Linked DNA regions of Homo sapiens. The protein of the gene in region 1 purifies or fractionates together with the protein of each later gene. This does not show direct contact. Each region holds a gene or a part of one and is shown on either strand. Other genes may lie near its edges. The genes, in order: CCR3 and HCK.

Region 1 (3,816 bases):
AGATATTTTAACCAAATTATCTGCTTCCCTGACTATTCCTGGACTATAGCCGCATCTCATTGCTGCCCTTCTTCCCAATCCAAAGCCTCCTTTGCGTCCTCTTCTTGTATTCCCCCACCTTAACCCACAAGTATAAGATACCTCTACTCCCTCCTTGGCGACCAATCATGCTCCCCTTACCATCTCGTTAAAACCTAATCACCCTTACCCTGCTCAATGCCAAGATCCCATCCCACAGCACGCTTTAAAAGGATTAAAGCCTGTTATCACTCGCCTGCTAAGGCATGGCCTTTTAAAGCCTATAAACTCTCCTTACCATTCCCCCATTTTACCTGTCCTAAAACCAGACAAGCCTTACAAGTTAGTTCAGAATCTGCACCTTATCAACCAAATTGTTTTGCCTATCCACCCCGTGGGGCCAAACCCATATAACCTCCTATCCTCAATACCTCCCTCTACTACCCATTATTCTGTTCTGGATCTCAAACATGCTTTCTTTACTATTCCTTTGCACCCTTCATCCCAGCCTCTCTTTGCTTTCACTTAGACTGACCCTGACACCCATTAGGCTCAGCAAATTACCTGGGCTGTACTGCCACAAGGTTTCACAGACAGCCCCCATTACTTCAGTCAAGCCCAAATTTCATCGTCATCTGTTACCTATCTCGGCATAATTCTCATAAAAACACACGTGCTCTCCCTGCTGATCCTGTCCGATTAATCTCCCAAACCTCAATCCCTTACAAAACAACAACTCCTTTCCTTCCTAGGCATGGTTAGTGCAGTCAGAATTCTTACACAAGAGCCAGGACTGCACCCTGTAGCCTTTCTGTCCAAACAACTTGATCTTACTGTTTTAGCCTAGCCCTCATGTCTGCATGCAGCAGCTGCCACTGCTTTAATACTTTTAGAGGCCCTAAAAATCACAAACTATGCTCAACTCACTCTCTACATTTCTCATAACTTCCAAAATCTATTTTCTTCCTCATACCTGATGCATATACTTTCTGCTCCTTGGCTCCTTCAGCTGTACTCACTCTTTGTTAAGTCTCCCACAATTACCATCATTCCTGGCCCGGACTTCAGTCCAGCCTCCCACATTATTCCAGAAACCACACCTGACCCTCATGACTGTATCTCTCTGATCCACCTGACATTCACCCCATTTCCCCATATCTCCTTCTTTCCTGTTCCTCACCCTGATCATGCTTGATTTATTGATGGCAGTTCCACCAGGCCTAATCACCACACACCAGCAAAGGCAGGCTATGCTATAGTACAAGCCACTAGCCTGCCTCTTAGAACCTCTCATTTCCTTTCCATTGTAGAAATCTATCCTCAAGGAAATCACTTCTCAGTGTTCCATCTGCTATTCTATGTGCTATTCTACTACTCCTCAAGGATTATTCAGGCCCCCTCCCTTCCCTACACATCAAGCTCGAGGATTTGCCCCTGCCCAGGACTGGCAAATTAGCTTTACTCAACATGCCCTGAGTCACAAAAACTAAAATACCTCTTAGTCTAAGTAGACACTTTCACTAGATAGGTAGAGGCCTTTCCTACAGGGTCTGAGAAGGGCACCGCAGTCATTTCTTCCCTTCTGTCAGACATAATTCCTCAGTTTAGCCTTCCCACCTCTATACAGTCTGATAACAGACCAGCCTTTATTAGTCAAATCAGCCAAGCAGTTTTTCAGGCTCTTAGTATTCAGTGAAACCTTTATATCCCTTATAGTCCTCTGTCTTCAAGAAAAGTAGAACGGACTAAAGGTCTTTTAAAAACACACCTCACCAAGCTCAGCCACCAACTTAAAAAGAACTGGACAATACTTTCACCACTTTCCCTTCTCAGAAGTCAGACCTGTCCTCGGAATGCTATAAGGTACAGCCCATTTAAGTTCCTGTATAGATGCTCCTTTTCATTAGGCCCCCAGTCTCATTCCAGACACCGGACCACCTTAGACTGTGCCCCAAAAAAACTTGTCATCCCTACTATTTTCTATCTAGTCATACTCCTGTTCTCTGTTCTCAACTACTCATACATGCCCTGCTCTTGTTTACACTGCCAGTTTACACTGTTTTTTCAAGCCATCACAGCTGATATCTCCTCGTGCTATCCCCAAACCGCCGCTCTTAACTCTTGAAGTAAATAAATAATCTTTGCTGGCAGGACTATGCTGAATCTCCTTAGGCACTCTCTAATCAGATGTCCTAGGTCCTCCCGATTCTTAGACCTTTTATACCTGTTTTTCTCCTTCTCTTATTCCATTTAGTTTTTCAATTCATACAAAACCATATCCAGGCCATCACCAATCATTCTATACGACAAATGTTTCTTCTAACATCCCCACAATATCACCCCTTACCACAAGACCTCCCTTCAGCTTAATCTCTCCCACTCTAGGTTCCCACGCCGCCCCTAATCCCGCTTGAAGCAGCCCTGGGAAACATCGCCCATTCTCTCTCCATACCACCCTCCAAAAATTTTCGCCACCCCAACACTTCAACACTATTTTGTTTTATTTTTCTTATTAATATAAGAAGGCAGGAATGTCAGGCCTCTGAGCCCAAGCCAAGCTATCCCATCCCCTGTGACTTGCACATATACGCCCAGATGGCCTGAAGTAACTGAAGAATCACAAAAGAAGTGAATATGCCCTGCCCCACCTTAACTGATGACATTCCACCACAAAAGCAGTGAAAATGGCCGGTCCTTGCCTTAAGTGATGACATTACCTTGTGAAAGTCCTTTTCCTAGCTCATCCTGGCTCAAAAATCACCCCCACTGAGCACCTTGCGACCCCCACTCCTGCCCGCCAGAGAACAAACCCCCTTTGACTGTAATTTTCCTCTACCTACCCAAATCCTATAAAACGGCCCCACCCTTATCTCCCTTCGCTGACTCTCTTTTCGGACTCAGCCCGCCTGCACCCAGGTGAAATAAACAGCCATGTTGCTCACACAAAGCCTGTTTGGTGGTCTCTTCACACGGACACGCATAAAAGCAAGTAGCCACCATAGTGGACAGTACAGGCCTAGTGTCCAGCATGATGCCTGACAAATGAAAGATGCTTAATAAACTCTTCTTAAGTGTATGAAAGGATGGAGTAGAATAATTTTTACTCTGCTTTGCACTGTCCAGACTACACATCTGAAATATTATGTTCTGTTCCAGGCACCAAATTTTAAGAGGGTTAGTATCAACCTAGACTATAGAAGGAAGTAGGATGATAACAGTCCCAAAACATCAGCCATAGTTGGCAGAACTTGGAATGTTTTGTATGAAAAATAATAGCCTTTGCATGAAATCAAACTAAATGCCCATCAATGACAGATTGGATAAAGAAAATGTGGTACATATACACATGGAATACTATGCAGCCATAAAAAAACAGATAGTGTCTTTTGCAGGAACATGGATGGAGCTAGAAGCTATTATCCTTAGCAAACTAATGCAGGGAAAAAACCAAATACGACATGTTCTGACTTATAAGTGGGAGCTAAATGATGAGAACTCATGAACACAAAGAAGAGAACAACAGACACAGGGGTCTACTTGAGAGTGGGAGGAGGGAGAGGAGCAGAAAAACAAGTATTGGCTACTAGGCTTAATACCTGGGTGATGAAATAATCTGTACAACAAACCCCCATGGCACGAGTTTACCTACGTAACAAAGCTTCACATGTACCCCCAAACCTAAAATAAAAGTTAAAAAAAAGGAAAATAATCATATTTGGATTCATTTTAGGTTTTGTTTTGTTTTGTTTTGTTTTTGTATGCCTTTGGTCTGGATCAAAGTTTTTTTTTTTAATTAAA
Region 2 (3,816 bases), on another chromosome or scaffold:
ACAGAGCATGGGATGACCCAGGGCAAAGCCTGGAAGAAGGAGAGAGAAACAGCTAAGAGCCCCCAGTTCCATGATCACTAAGAAGGGGTGACATAATTGTTTTTTTTTGACAGAGTATCGCTCTTGTCCCCCAGGCTGGAGTGCAGTGGCATGATATTTCAGCTCACTGCAACCTCTGCCCCCTGGAGTCAAGTGATTCTCCTGCCTCAGCCTCCCGAGTAGCTGGGACTACAGGCACGCACCACCACACCCAGCTAATTTTTTTTGTATTTTTAGTAGAGATGGGGTTACACCTTGTTGGTCAGGCTGGTCTCGAACTCCTGACCTCAGGTGATCTGCGTGCCTTGGCCTCCCGAAGTGCTGGGATTACAGGTGTGAGCCACCATGCCCAGCCAGAAGGAGGTGGCTTTATAATGGGAAAAGCCTAAGCGTTTTCATTTTTAACAGGCAAGCATCCCAAACCCATAATACCATCTAGCTAGAAAGAGGAGGCAGAAGAGACAAAACAATGGGGACTGTCATTTGTCAACTTTTGATTGGCTGGTTTTTAATGGGATGTATTGCCACCCCACAATGTAGTCATCTTTTTACTCATCAACCTCATCCACCATACAGAGAACATCTCCAGCAGGGAGCCCCATCTAAGTCATCTTCTAACCCTGGAATAGGGAATCAACAGGTATCTGTTGGATGATGGATGGATGGATGGATGGATGGATGGATGGATGAATGGATGGATGGATGGATGGATGACTGAAGTATATTTTTAGAGTCAAGCTAGACACAAGAAGAACCCACAGCCAAGAACGATGGGTTATGGAGAGCTCCTTGAGGGTAGGGATATATCTTATTTGTTTCCACAGCCCCTTAGGCTGGCACAGGGCTTGAAGAGTCATGAGCATGTGCTTGTCGAATGAATCAAATGAGGGATGGGCCAGGTGCAGTGGTTCAGGCCTATAATCCCAGCATTTTGGGAGGCTGAGGCGAGAAGATCACTTGAGCCCAGGAGTTTGAGACCAGCCTGGGCAACACAGAGAGACCCCCTCTCTACCAAAAATACAAAAAAGAAAAAAATTAGCTGGGCATGGTGATGCGCACTTGTAGTCCCAGCTACTTGGGAGGCTGAGGTGGGAGGATCAACTGAGCCCAGGGAGGCTGAGGCTGAAGTGAGCTGTGATGGTGCTACTGCATTCCAGCCTGGGCAACAGAGTGAGACCCTGTCTCAAAACAAAACAAAACAACAAATGAGGGACGACTGGCCAGGTGTGAGCTGTCTCACCTCTCCAGAAACCCTCCTTGGCAAGACCGTGTGCTTCATTCAACAATATTTATTGAGCACTGACTGCATGCCAGCCTGTGCCGAGGATGCAGAAGCAGACAAAGTCCCCGCTCTCACCAGCTCTCTTCCTTGCAGGGCAGGCAGAGAATGCACGTGTAACCAACCAAAGAAACCAGGTCGTTTTGCTAGTAAAACATGTTCAGAAGGGATTAAAACAGGTTTCCACAAGACAGAGTCACAGCTGGGACCCACTTTAGCCTCTCTTCCCTGACTGGAAGGATGAAACCTGAAGGAAGAGAAGGAGCCAGCCAAGCCCAGAGCCCTGGGAAGAGTATGTGCCAGGCAGTGGTACAGTGTGTGCAGACGTCCTGAGTTGCAAACAAGGCTGGCTTTGCTCATGCCTCTTTCTGGAAGGTAGGAAATAGGATACTTACTCCTCTGTCTCCAGAGAGTCAACGCGGGCGACATAGTTGCTTGGGATGTAGCCCTCCTTCCGGGTGGCCAGGGATCGAGCCTTCCACCACTCCCCGGATCTGAGGGACATGAGGGAGTAAAGGTGTTAGGGACAGAAGGATCATTCTCCAGTCTCCTCAAGCTCCCCAGCCTTGACCTAGAAAACTCCCTGCCTCCAGAAAGCCAGTAGGGTGAAGGACAGGGCTGTGACTATGTCAGCCCCAGCATGTGGCCATGATTAGGGTAGGGATCCTTACAACAGTTCCTGCTGTGCATCTGAGGGTCTGGAATCTCCCTGTCCACAGCCCAGAGCCCTGGGTCTCTGGCTCCACTCCTTTTCCCTGGACTTGCAGCTTTGGTCTTATTAGCTATACCCATGGCAGGGTCCTGTGCCTATAGAGACTCAGAATGGTTCAGCTGGGGCTGAGAATAGGGGAGAGTGGGCTTGGGAGTCCGACCAGGCATGACCACTCCCGTTCTCGGGCTTCAGCACATCCTGGACACTATACCCATGATGGTGAAGGCTGTAGGAGATCCGAGGTGGCAAACTCAGAGATCCAAGGATTTCCAAATGCAAGGTCGACTCGATGGGGCCTGGTCCACAGGTAAAGCCGGTGGCTTAATCGCAGGAGCCCTAGAAAGGCTTCCCTGAGAAAGCGTCACCTGTTCATCTCAGGCTGGACGTGCACTCTCAGTAAGTGCACAATCCCCTTCATCCAGGTTGACAGCAAACCCTTCCTCCACTATTGTGATTAGCTTCTCATTAGACATTTATACCCAGGATAAGATAGCCCATCTATCAGGTTCTTTATGGAAGCACAAAAGAGCACATAGTTGAGTAGAGGAGGCAGGTCTGTCTTAGGGGGAGTGGGATGGGGACTCACTCCTCTAGGACCACCATCTGGTCCCCCTTCTGGAAGCTGAGGTCTTCGTGGTGAATGGCCTCGTAATCATACAGGGCAACCACGATGATGTCCTCAGAGCCTGCTGGGAAGGGAGACACACAGAGGGTGAGGTTTCGTCTAAGTGCATCCACAGCCCTTGGTGACCCTCACCCGGCACCTGGAACAGCTCCGCACCCATCGATATGTGGTTCCAAGTATAAGTAGGCGTCTCACCATGCTGGGTGTGATTCTCAAGTTTAAAGCTAAATATGTTTTGTTCATGTTACTAAACAGCGTTCTAGAAACACAATAGCCTGCGCAAAGCACTTCAGAGGAAATTTTGGGGATTCTCGACAGGGGTTTGACTGTTTGGGATTTATGCCTCAAGCTAAGGGAGAACCTAGCGGAGTCCTCTGCAGGACACATGACTCCACTGCATCTGCTCGTAGATACTTACCCTCCCTGATTCCTGGTGTGTTGCTGTTGTGGCTATTAGGCCCCTGTGGGGAAGAAATGAGAGAAGAGAATGAATCTGACCAATGTGTGGGGACCCGTGGAAGGTCTGTGTTGAGAAGGACACCCAAGAGCATCTTACCCTAGCCCTGCATGTCGTGGGAGGAGGCCCACATACGGCAGGGGACATGCCTGGCACCACACGGCACATTAGGGGCAGAGCCAGCAAACAAAATGGTCCAGATTTTTTGTTGTTGCTGTTGTTTGAGATGGAATCTCACTCTGTCACCCAGGCTGGAGTGCAGTGGCGTGATCTCAGCTCACCGAAACCTCCACCTCTCGGGTTCAAGTGATTCTCCTGCCTCAGCCTCCCAAGTAGCTGGGATTACAGGCGCATGCCACCATGCCTGGCTAATTTTGTATTTTTAGTAGAGATGGGGTTTCACCATGTTGGCCCGGCTGGTCTAGAACTCCTGACCTCCCAAAGTGCTGGGATTACAGGAGTGAGCCACTGTGCCCAGCCAGGATCCAGGTTTCTTGAGCTGTGACCTCGGCCTTCGGTCTTGGATGTACCGGGGGATGCTGCTTGACCCCTCCCCTCAACACACAGTGAAGGGGTCGGTCCAGATCAGTGTTTTCCGACTAAGTTTGGAGAAATCACAGGCCCACCAGTGATTTATATTCCATAAATAAAGGCTCTGTTATGTATGTGAAACAATCTAAGTGTCCATGCAAGGGGGAAGTGAC

The links.
Region 2: the proteins of CCR3 (region 1) and HCK purify together in Homo sapiens (affinity purification with western blotting, with the first as the bait; one study listed by BioGRID). This does not show direct contact.

What each region holds. Positions count from the first base shown.
Region 1 is NC_000003.12:46,245,460-46,249,275, reverse strand, and holds part of CCR3 (C-C chemokine receptor type 3), read right to left. Parts: intron 1-3,816.
Region 2 is NC_000020.11:32,072,619-32,076,434, reverse strand, and holds part of HCK (tyrosine-protein kinase HCK), read right to left. Parts: intron 3,117-3,816; coding exon 3,074-3,116; intron 2,720-3,073; coding exon 2,617-2,719; intron 1,813-2,616; coding exon 1,714-1,812; intron 1-1,713. UniProt on the Homo sapiens protein: Non-receptor tyrosine-protein kinase found in hematopoietic cells that transmits signals from cell surface receptors and plays an important role in the regulation of innate immune responses, including neutrophil, monocyte, macrophage and mast cell functions, phagocytosis, cell survival and proliferation, cell adhesion and migration.